Homo sapiens: one gene and its partners. The protein of the gene in region 2 interacts with the protein of the main gene of each other region in a biochemical or structural test. Each region holds a gene or a part of one and is shown on either strand. Other genes may lie near its edges.

Evidence for each region.
Region 1: the proteins of NCOA6 (region 2) and CREBBP form a complex in vitro, tested with the Homo sapiens proteins (2 studies listed by BioGRID).
Region 3: the proteins of NCOA6 (region 2) and RXRA form a complex in vitro, tested with the Homo sapiens proteins (5 studies listed by BioGRID).

What each region holds. Positions count from the first base shown.
Region 1 is NC_000016.10:3,733,988-3,737,731, forward strand, and holds part of CREBBP (CREB-binding protein), read right to left. Parts: intron 2,829-3,744; coding exon 2,663-2,828; intron 2,217-2,662; coding exon 2,049-2,216; intron 1-2,048. UniProt on the Homo sapiens protein: Acetylates histones, giving a specific tag for transcriptional activation. Mediates acetylation of histone H3 at 'Lys-18' and 'Lys-27' (H3K18ac and H3K27ac, respectively).
Region 2 is NC_000020.11:34,823,632-34,827,375, forward strand, and holds the start of NCOA6 (nuclear receptor coactivator 6), read right to left. Parts: upstream 2,021-3,744; 5' UTR 1,841-2,020; intron 1-1,840. UniProt on the Homo sapiens protein: Nuclear receptor coactivator that directly binds nuclear receptors and stimulates the transcriptional activities in a hormone-dependent fashion. Coactivates expression in an agonist- and AF2-dependent manner.
Region 3 is NC_000009.12:134,324,500-134,328,243, forward strand, and holds the start of RXRA (retinoic acid receptor RXR-alpha), read left to right. Parts: upstream 1-1,955; 5' UTR 1,956-2,132; coding exon 2,133-2,160; intron 2,161-3,744. UniProt on the Homo sapiens protein: Receptor for retinoic acid that acts as a transcription factor.

The DNA of each region.
Region 1 (3,744 bases), on a different chromosome or scaffold from region 2:
TTAAGAAAATATAGACAAGTAATTTTAAAAAGTTTTGTTTTTCTGGTCTTCCCGAGCAGCAGTGTTCTGTGTTCTGGAGCTTTCCCTGGGCACATTTGTCTCCGTGTTTGCGACATTCCTCACGAAGCTGGGACTGCACACAGGGAGCTGGTTCCGTTTCTCGCCCCACCTGACACTATCGCGAGCCTTTCCCCATTTCCCAGAATTGACAGCATGATGCAGAGCAGAGCTAATAGCAAAGCAGTGCTCCACCCCACGCACCAGCCCTCACTAAGGCTGACCCCCAGAGCGAGCTCCTGGGGTGTTGCTGACGAAGGCATGTCCCTGCCCATTGTTGTCCATGAACCAAACACACAAGGGACAGCAGGTCTACATGCCGACACCTCAGCATCCCGCCTCCTAACACATGCATGTCCCCGGTGCACAGGGAAGGCTGCCCCAGCAGGAGCCCCTATCAGGCCTGTCTTCTGGACAACCCCACTGCTGCCATGCCACAGGCAGGTGCCCCCTCCTGGGGTGGAACTCAGCTGCGCAAAGCCTGTCTCGGACGCGGTAACCTCCCGTGTCACCCTTAGGAGATGGAACTCAAGCATTAACTCACCAGACACCAGTGAGACCAGCTACACTCCAGCGGGAGCAAGTCCGAAGACAACAGGCCAGGAGCTCTGCTTAGGAGCCACCTAGGGCGTAAACCCACGCCACCCCCTGCCCGCGCCTCCTCTGTCCTGCGAATGACACTCTGGGGCGCCGTCCAGCAGGTGGCTGCCTCTCAACCACCTGTGCAGTGAGCACGAGTGTGTGTGGCGGAAGCGGCCCAGGCCCCACGCTCCGCCTACAGCCCATCCGGCACCCACCTCACAGACGTGCTCTCATATGGGACAGGCACCAGAGTGGCAGTATGTCCCCAGCCGGCTCCCGGCTGCCTCACCCATGGCAGCAGCCCACGCAAGAGCCACCTCCATTCACCGCTTTTCCTCACTGGTCACAATCGCCTGTCCCAAGTTCTGGGGCTGCAGCCTTCAACGTTCGTCATCGCTCTCCCTGCACCTACAGCTACAGCCCACACCCACGCCACCATCATCTCTTCCCCAGACAGCCGCACAAACCCGCACACAGCGCGCCTCCTCCCACCGCCTGGCGGGTCCTCTTCCAGCACCTTCCTGTGGTGGGCGGGTCTGGCCCACACGCCACCTCCCCAAGGCTCCTTCCCCTTCAGAGCTCTGCCACGCTCAGAGCACACCATGCTTGGGTCTGGGTTCTTTTTGTTTCACATCCTACCAGGACACAGCCACTCCCTTGGGGGCGGAGATGGGGTTTTGTTTGTTCTGAAACGGAGTCTCGCACTGTCTCCTGGGCTGGAGTGCAACGGCGCAATCTAGGCTCACTGCAACCTCCGCCTCCCGGGTTCAAGCGATTCTCCTGCCTCAACCTCCCTCGTAGCTGGGATTACAGGTGCCCCCTCCCACAACCGGCTAAATTTTTGTATTTTTAGTAGAGATGGGGTTTCACTGTGTTAGCCAGGCTGGTCTCCCTTTCCTGACCTTGTGATCCGCCTGCCTCGGCCTCCCAAAGTGCGGGGTTACAGGTGTGAGCCACCGCGCCTGGCCAGGGATGGGGTTTTGTTTGGCTCAGTCTGCACTGCCTGGCACTCAGGGGCAGCGCCAAGGAGAGAGGGCAGCAGGGCATGAGCATCATGTGCAGAGTGGCCACCAAACACGGAATAAGGCCTGGCAACCCTGTGCCTCCTCGACTCACTTTTTACATCAGCGGGTTGTGTCCTGACTGCCCCATGTCCCATTTTCTGTCTTCCTCTCTTCCCTCTCCGAGTCTAAGTGGACCCCCAGCTCCCCAGAGCATCCACTGTGCAGAGAGTGCAGAGCCCACACTGCTGCCCACCAACGCCCTGTGCTGCAGGTGGTGTCGACGTGCATGTGTGAACGGAGACACCACCACAGGAAGGACCTAACAGTCGACACGCGCCTCCCAGCCTGCCACCCTGCAGCTCCAGCGGGACACGTGGGCAATGGAGCTCAGAGAAGGGTCTGTACCTCAGTGGTTTCACTGGCTGCAGTGCTCTCTTCCTTTTTCCTCTCCTCTTCTTCTTGTTCTAGTTCCTTAATGCTCTCTTCTAACACATTGGGCCAGAAATCACCTTCAAAATAGGGCAGTTCCTTGGCACTGGTGAGCCTGTCTTCAGTTGCTTGTTTGAAAATATCCTGAGTGGGCAAAGCACAACAGTGAGATGAGGGCCATGCACGCGTGCCCCCCACCATGGTGCGACAGACCCCCACGCAAGCGTGCCCCTCACCATGGTGTGGCAGAGTCCCATGCATGTGTGCCCCCCCACCACAGTGCAGCAGACCCCCACACATGTGCACCCCCCACCACAGTGCTGGAGCCCCTATGTGTGCAACAGTGATGCACAGGCCCCAATGCCCACTGATGGAAACAGCTCCAACTGTGCTGCTCTCAGACGGCCAGGGGAAAGCCTCAATCAGCTGAAGAAAATGCTTCTAAGTTCTCACTTTAGGCTTTTATTTTTCTGCTTTCTAATCCTCATAAGTGAAGGTAATTAACAAGTATGCGAATGCAAGAAAAAGGCACACAAATATCCTCCCCTCAGTTGTGACAAAAGCCACCACCTTCCTTCAGCGCCGGGTACCTTGTAGTCATGGATGATCCGCTCTGCAAACGCCTTGTCCAGCATCTTTTTGTACCACTCCTGCAGTCGTTTTGGCTTGGGTATTTTTTGATCAGGTGGGTGGCAATGGAAGATGTAATCATCTCCTTCACTTGGAGGACAGGCCCAGATGTGCCCTGTCACATACCTGCAGGACCCACGCACACACGTCAGATGAACGTGCCAGTGAAATCGGCCCTGCCTTTAAGGAGTTATAGCAGAGGAGCAAGGACTAAAGCCAGGACAGAAGTAACCAGAGAGAGAGAATGAATGCCCACAAAGCTGGGTGTGGTGGGGGCAAGGCTCGAACTTTATCCTGAGCAAATGCAAGCCTGCAAATTAGCCCTGCAACACTTCTCCCTTGGGGTGCACACACAGGGCAGGGCCGAGGCTGCAAAAGAAACCTGAGGCCTCATTAAAGAACCAGGGAATATGATGGCTCATCAAGGCAATGCCATCCCCTTCCTCCTGTGCACTGTAAAGGCAGTTCGGTTGACTATTTTTCTCCAAGGGTCAATGTCAACATAAACCTCATTCATTCTGTTCAAGACACTTTGATCAAATGCCCCTATCCTTTTCAAGTTTCAGAAGGGAATGGGGCAGGTCTAGAGTACAGAAACCAAGGGCTAGAGAAGGAAGCCAGACCCAAGACAGCATACGCTGCAGGGTTCCGTTTACACAAAGGATTCACAAAAGACAAATTCAGAGAGACAAAGTAGATTAGTGGTCGCCTGGGGCAGGGAAGGTTTAACAGCAAGGGGCAGGAGGAACATTTTTTTTCTTTTTTCTTTTTTTTTTTTTGCGGGCGGGGGGCAGAGTTTCATTGTTGTTGCCCAGGGTGGAGTGCAATGGCATGATCTCGACTCAGCGCATCCTCTGTCTCCCTGGTTCGAGTGGCTCTCCTGCCCCCACCTCCTGAGGAGCTGGGATTACGCTAGGCACCCGCCACCACGCCTGGCTCATTTTTTGTATTTTTAGTACAGACAGGGTTTCACCATGTTGGTCAGGCTGGTCTTGAACTCCTGATCTCAGGTGATCCACCTGCCTTGGCCTCCCAAAGTACT
Region 2 (3,744 bases):
TTTCACTTTTCTTTTTTAGGATTTTGTGTTCCTTTGTGGTAAACACCTAGAAGAGAAGGAGCATCTCTCTTTTTTTTTTTTCTTTAGACAGTGTCTTGCTCTGTCGCCCAGGCAGGAATGTCATGGAATGACCATAGCATGGCTCATTGCAGCCTTGACCTCCCAGGCTCAAGCGATCCTCCCACCTCAGCCTCCTGAGTAGCTGGGACTACAAGTACAAGCCACATCAGGTGGCTAATTTTTTTTATTTCTTTTGTAGAGATGGGGTCTGCCAGCTCCTGGGCTCAAGAAATCCTCCCACCTTGGCCTCCCAAAGTGTTGGGATTACAGGCGTGAGCCACTGTGGCTGGCCGGAGCACCTCTTAAAACTCTAGAAAGTTAGAAGGTCTCAAAGATAACTTCTTTGCACAATTAGAGATGAACCAGGAAATACCAAATAACTGGCTGCCTATACTTTTTTGTATTCCCTTCAGCCTTTGTATTGCCACACTCATTACAGGAAGAAAACAAATTTAATAGTTATCTGGTATATACTGTTATGCTTCATTTCTTGTTGTTTTTGTTTGTTTGCTTTTAGTTTCATCACAAGAATGTTATGCTTCATTTCTTAACACCTTTCTCCCAGCTAGCAAATTCCTTTAAGGCAATGTGTTTAGTGAGGAAGCAGCCGACAATTTCTAGTACCCCTCTGCCACTAACTTGTAAGATCTTGAAAAGTCAACTTTACCTTTCTATGTTTCAGCTAAAATCACTACCTGATTTGAAATCTTTACTTGATCTCTCAGGCCTTTGTAGTTTTTATACATTCACTCTTCTTCACCATTTTACTGGCTTCAATAACGCCTTTCTGATGACCTCTCCAGGTGACTCTGCTCTTAAGCTGTGGGCTGTCCCCTTCCAGGGAAGACACCTTGGGTCACCGCCCCCAAACAGCCAGGTCCCTCCTTTTAAAGACACACACAACTCCCTAAGTTGATAAAGGTTCTCTCCTTCCTTGCCAACCAGTTCCACTCTCTGTGCCTCTTTTGCTGGCCAGCTCCTGCACCCAAACCTCAGTCTCCCTTTGTCCCCCTTTTCTCTCATCAAACACCTCCTTTTTCCTGTTGCTTCCCCCAAGAGGGGGTGGAGGATGCTTGGGACATAAGTCTTCAGAGCCTTGGGAGTTATACAGCTTTGCAATTCAGCCCCAGTACCCCAAGGACTGCCCCAATCTGAACCAGCGTCTGTACCCAAAGGGCCCTCATTCCTCATCAATCACCTCCTTCCCTCCCAGCAAAGAACTGCTCCAGCCCTGACAGCCTGAGCTTGGCCCCCATGCCTCCACCCCAATCCCCAGGTCCTACCTGCATTAGGGCTCTAACACCGCCTAAGGCCTAACCCAGTTCCACGTCCTGCCATCCTCTCAGCCCATAGACCCCAATCCCGGTTCCCTTCGGACCCAGTGTTCCTTCTCCGCGACCCTGACCACGACCCCACGACCGGCTCCCGCCTGTTCCCCAGGCCTGGAGCGCCACCCCGTGCAGACCCCGGCCAGCCCTGCACTCCCTCAGTGCACCGGCCCCCGCGCCCAGCACCCTCCCCACCCAGCCCGGCCGCCGCTCCCTCCAGCGCCCCCGCCCGCAGGCCTGGGGCCCGCTCCCCAACATGGCGACGGGGACACAAGCGCGGCGGGCGGGGCGGCTCCGGGCCGGGCCCGCTCTCAGACCGTGCCACTCGGTCGCCCGGCGCCATTTTTCCGCGCGGGCCCGGGCGGCGCCTCCTCCCCGCGAAGCCAGCCCGACAAGGACCGCGGACGCCCGGCGGGCCCACCCCTTACGGGCCCGCGCCGCCGTCCCCTCACCTGAGCGCGGCCCCGGCCCTCCCGGGCGGGCCTTGGAGCGCCGGCCCGGGCCGTGCGTGCCCGCCGCCCTCGGTGCGTCCGTCCGTCAGTCCTCGCGTGCGCCCGTCTGTCCCGCCGCCCGCGCCCGGCCGCCCGCAGCCCGACCCGGCAGGGCCTCACGGAGCCGGCGGGGAGGGGGATGGGCCGGACCGGGCCGGGGAGGGAGGGGGAGGGAGGGAGAGAGGGAGGGAGCGCGAGAGGGGGCGGGGCGGACTCGAGGGGCGGGGCATTGCCCACGTGACCAGACGTCCCCGGGAGCGCGAGGTGGAGCGCGCGCCAGCTCCCTTCGGTGCTGAGTGCTTAGTGCTGGGATCTCGTGGGTCTCTGTCGGCTTTCCAGGGCTATTCTCTCGCCAGTGAGTCCCACTTCGGAAGCACACATTGCACAGTCTTTTGCGAGCGCTCTGAGTATCCTTGGACATGGCAACTCCAAGCCTCAGTTTACCCATCTGAAATATGGGGAAAATCATAGTGCTTGTGAAGAGCAAATGGAGGTGGGCTTGGAAAGCACTTGTCACCGTGCCTGACACATACTGTCTAATAATAAGCTTAATGGGATATAGATAAAAGCTTTCATTATTATTTGCCTCTAAATCCCTCTCTTCTTTTTCCCATCATTACCTCCCTAGCAAGCTAAAATGCTCAGTAAATAGAATTATTGATCGAACGAGTGTGGCCCCTCCCCTCTTCCCAAACGTAGAAAGGCCTCCTCAGCACTGGACTTCATGTCTGTCATACAGGCCTGGATTCATATCTGGCTTTCACTCTTTTTTAAAAATTTTCTGTTTTTTCCCACACTACACTGATGTATTTTTTAAATTTTCGTAAGTACGTAGTAGGTGAATATATTTATGGGGTACATGAGATTTTGATACAGGCATGCGATGTGTAATCACATCATGGTAAATGGGGTATCTAGCAACTCAAGCATTTATCCTTTGTGTTACAAATAACCCAATTATACTCTAGTTATTTTAAAATGTACAAGTAAATTTTGTGTGTGTGTGGTTTTTTTTTTGTTTTTTGTTTTATTTTTGTTTTTTTGAGACGGAGTCTCACTCCGTCGCCCAGGCTGGAGTGCAGTGGCGCGATCTCAGCTCACTGCAACTTCCGCCTCCCTGGTTCAAGGGATTCGCCTGCCTCAGCCTCCTGAGTAGCTGGTACTACAGGCGCATGCCACCACGCCCAGCTAATTTTTGTATATTTTTTAAGTAGAGATGGGGTTTCACCATATTGGCCGGGCTGGTCAGGAACTCCTGACCTCATGATCCGCCCGCCTCTGCCCCTCAAAGTGCTGGGATTATAGGCGTGAGCCACCGCGCCCGGCCAATTGTTTTTTACTGTAGTCACCTTCTTGTGCTAGCAAATACTAGGTCTTATTCTTTCTAACTATTCTTTTGTACCCGTTAATCATTCCCACTTCCCACCTACCTCCCCATTAATCTTACCAGCCTCTGGTAACCCTCCTTCTATTCTCTATCTCCATGAGTTCAATTGTTTTAATTTTTCGCTCCTGGCCCGGCATGGTGGCTCACGCCTGTAATCCTAGCACTTTGGGAGGCCAAGATGGGCGGATCACCTGAGGTCAGGAGTTCAAGACCAGCCTGGCCAACATGGTGAAACCCTGTCTCTACTAAAATACAAAAGCTAGGTGGGCATGATGGCGGGTGCCTGTAATCCCAGCTACTCAGGAGGCTGAGACGGGAGAATCTCTTGAACCTGGGAGATGGTGGTTGCGGTGAGCCTAGCTCGCGCCACTGCACTCCAGCCTAGGTGGCTGAGTGAGACTCCGTCTCAAAAAAAAATAAAAAATAGTTAATTTTTTGCTCCCACAAATAAGTGAGAACATGTGAAGTTTGTCTTTCT
Region 3 (3,744 bases), on a different chromosome or scaffold from region 2:
GGTTGTTCCCACTTTACAGATGAGAAAACTGAGATACAAGGAGGGAAGTGACCCAGCTAGGCCACACGGTTGGTAGGAGGTGGACCTGCAATCTGGCCCAGGCCTTGTCTATCTGGGACTCCCCCCCAACCCCCCAACCTGAGTACAGTCAGGAGGGGCCCAAGCAGTCACAGAGACAGGCCTGGAACGCGGCGGGCACATGGCACTTTTGCAGTGTATGTTGGTGCTTACGGGGGCTCTTTCTCAGTCCTATCCTTTGTTTGCCGCCCCCCTCCCTGGCAGGAGGAACTCAGTTTTAGAAGGGCAGTGGGTTGGGCCGGCATGCCATGTGCAGTGGGGAAGTGGGTCTGTTGTGGCTGTAACCACAGTGGGTGAGGACCAGGTGTCAACAGTGGCCCTCATCCCGGAGGGAGTGGGGCAGGCTGCCTGTTGGACAGGGTGTGTGAATAGGGGGACGGGGTGGCCTTTGGTAGGGGCCCAGGGGTCAGTGAAGAGGGGGAGGGGGAGAGGGCTGCCTTGGGCTCTGGCTGTGCTGGGGGTGGGCTGCCCAACCAGGGCACTTCTGTCCCAAGTGGAACCAAGACCTCCCACCGGAACAGGCCACCGGAGCCCTCGTGGAACCCAGCTCCGGGTGGCCCGACTTGAGGGGCACCCAGGCAGCAGGACACCTCTCTGGTCTCGGGCTGTTATCTTTGGGCCGTGTCATGGCTGTCCACACGCGGTCATCACCTCCTCACCTCCCTCCCCATTAGCGTCCCCTGACCCGGGCCACCACGCGCAGCCTGCGTGAATGGTCAGTCCCTGTGCCTCGCAGCCCGGGCCCTTAGGTCTAGGTGGTCAGCAAGCTCGCGGTGGGGGTGCGGAGGGAGGGCGCGGCGGGGCGCCTCGGCGCCTGCTCAGGAAGGCTGGGCTTGGCGGCGCGCAGGTAGCTCACACCCAAATCCGAATTCCAGCCGCCCGAGACGGCGGGCGGCGGGCGGCGCGCGGCGGAGGCGGCCCGAGCTGTCCCGGGGCAGGAGTGCTTCCTTTCGTTTTCAAACAAATCGTGAATTTAAAAGTCAGGCAGAGAACTACCCAGGGTATAAAAATAGCCACCGGCCACAAAGTCTGTGTCCAACTCCGGGCAGCGCCTGCCCAGCCTGGTGCCTTTGAAGAGGGGTCCCAGGAGTGCGGGTCGATGAGGAGGCGAAGCGCGCACCCCTCCTCGTTCCCGGTGGGCTCGTGGGTCTCTCCGTGGGGGTAGGGCGTGAAAGTGTGGGGTGGACCGGGGGTAGCGTCCGGAAGACGAAACCTTCCCCGGACGAGGAGCTTGTCCTCTGCCGTTGGGGCACATCGCCACTCCCGGGCCTCAGTTTCCCCACGTGTCCGCCGCGGCGGGGTGCGAGGTATGGGTGCCGCGGCCATCCCGCCCGGCTCTGCGCTTGCCTGGCCCGGGCCGGGGTCCCCTCGCGGCCACCGCCCGGCCGCTTTGTGTGGCCGCGCAGACAATGGCCCGGCCGCTGGGCTCCCGGCCCGGCTCTCCGCCTCCTCCGGGCCCTTGCGCGCAAGTGTGTGTGTGCGCGAGTGTGTGGCGGGCCCGGGGAGGGAGTTCTGCTCCCGCCCCCGCCCCCGCCCCGCTCCCTCTGCGCCCCGCCCCCTCCCACGCCGCCTCCTCGCGGCTCCCGGGAACCCCTGGCGGAGGCGAACTCGCAAGTTTGCACGGCGCTCTCAACTCGGCGGCCGGGCGGGCGGCGATCGCGGGGCGGCGGCGGCGGAGGGGGGCGCGCTCCGGGCGGGGCTGGGCGGGCGGGGCGCGGGCCGAGCGGTGGCGGCGGCGCTGCGCCGAGTCAGCGCCCGTCGCGGGCCCCCCGCCACCCCCCCGCCGGCGCCGCAGCGCCGCGGTCGGAGCGGGGCGCGGGCGCGCGGCGGCGGGGGCGCGGGCCGGGCGCGCGCGGCGGCGGCGCGCAGACACAAGTAGTTTACATTGTTGGGCGACTTTTGCAACAACTCGCCGCGCCGCGGCCTCCGCGCGCCGCCGCCGCCACCGCAGCCGCCGGCTCCCCGCCGCCCGGGCCCGGGCCGGCCGCGCCGGGGGCCGCCGCGCCCGCCGCCCGCTGCCTGCGCCGCCGGCCGGGCATGAGTTAGTCGCAGACATGGACACCAAACATTTCCTGCCGCTCGGTGAGTGCTCGCCGGGCCGGGCGGGGACGGGGCCGGGGGCCGGGGGCCGGCGGGCGGGAGGGGGCCGGGGGCGCGTTGGCGGCGCGCGCGGGGGGTCGCCGGCCCGGGCCCCGCTCGGACCCCTCGCCGACCTTCGCGTGAGTTCGGGCGCCGGGCCCGGGGAGGGTCGACCCGGGGCAACTTTTCGCGGGGCCGGGGCGGGGCTGGGCAGCGGGCGGGCGGCGGGGCCGGGGGGCGGGTGGCAGGTTCGCCCGGGACGAGGAGGGGTCTCCCGCTCACCGGCGGCCGCCTGCGCCCCGGCGCCCAGCTGCAGCCGCGCCGCACAGGAACCCGGCCGGAGCGGGAGGAGCAACTTCTGCGCTCCGCGGCTCCGGCCTCCCTGGCCTGGGGACCGGGACGGCGCGCTGGGCCCCGAGCGGCCTCTGCGCCGCCCGCCCGTCGGGCTGCGGCTTCTAGCAGGCCGCTGGCCCTTGGGTGTGTGTCCGCCCAGGAAACAGACTGGGACCCTGTTATCCCCAAAGCAGCCCACGCCCGGGTGGGCAGGGTCCCCCGGGGCTGTATGAACAGAACGTCAGACCTGGGAAGGCCCCATTCCAGAAATGGGGCCCCTCACTCTGGCACCCCCGGGTGTTCTCCCAGGCTGGCTCTCCATTTGTGAGCAGGACAGCGCAGAGGCGCGTAGGGTCAGTTTCCCTCCTCCTCCTGCCATCCCGCCCGGTAGCTTCCTATCCCAGACTGCCCGCCAACTCCAGGCCCAGACCTACCGAGAAGGGGGAGAGGGCATGGCTGGGGCCCCCACCCATTGCCCTCCCAAGGGTTTGGAAGCTAGTGAGAAGGGGGAGACTTTATAAATTAGCTCCGGGAAGGATATTAATTTGGTGGTGGGACGGCAGCCAGGCTGTCAGGCCGGGTGAAGGATTTGTGCTGAATGGAAATCGAAACAGCTGATTATGAATGAAGCCCCCGCCATCCGTAGCCCCTCCTGCCCACCCTCCCTGCAGCCTGGGGTGCAGCTTGGCCACCCCAGGAGGTGCTCAGAAGCCAATGTAGCTGCAGGGATGTTTAGTGAGATGGGGCATCAAGGGGAGCCAGCATGGACCTAGCCCCTCCTGGATGTGAGGGTGAGAGTCTGAGTACCTCTGCTACTCACAGGCAGGTGTGCTGCCCCGTGACCGGGGCAGGCGGTGGGTTCCAGGTTTGTCAGACCTAACGCTTACTCCCTGCCTCTGTCATGATGGAGTGGTGGGCTCGAGGCCTTGAATGAGCTCCAGGGCTCAGCCTCCAGGGGTGGGCGCTCATGCCCATTTTGCAGATGAGAAAACTGGCTGGGAGAGGCTGAGCCCCCAGGATACAAGGTGGTGGATTTGGGATTAGCACCCCCAGCTCGTGGTACTGCTGAGTGTGAGGCAGGAGGGAATGCTGCGCTGTCTGTGACCGAGTGCAGTGTGGAGTGGGCTGGGGCTGCCTTTCCCTGTTAAAGCTTTGCACTCACACATGTGCACACACACATCCACACACACAGAGCTAGGCTCTCCCAGACGATTCCTCTGGAACAAGAATGCTCAGCTCAGTGTCTGGCCCCTG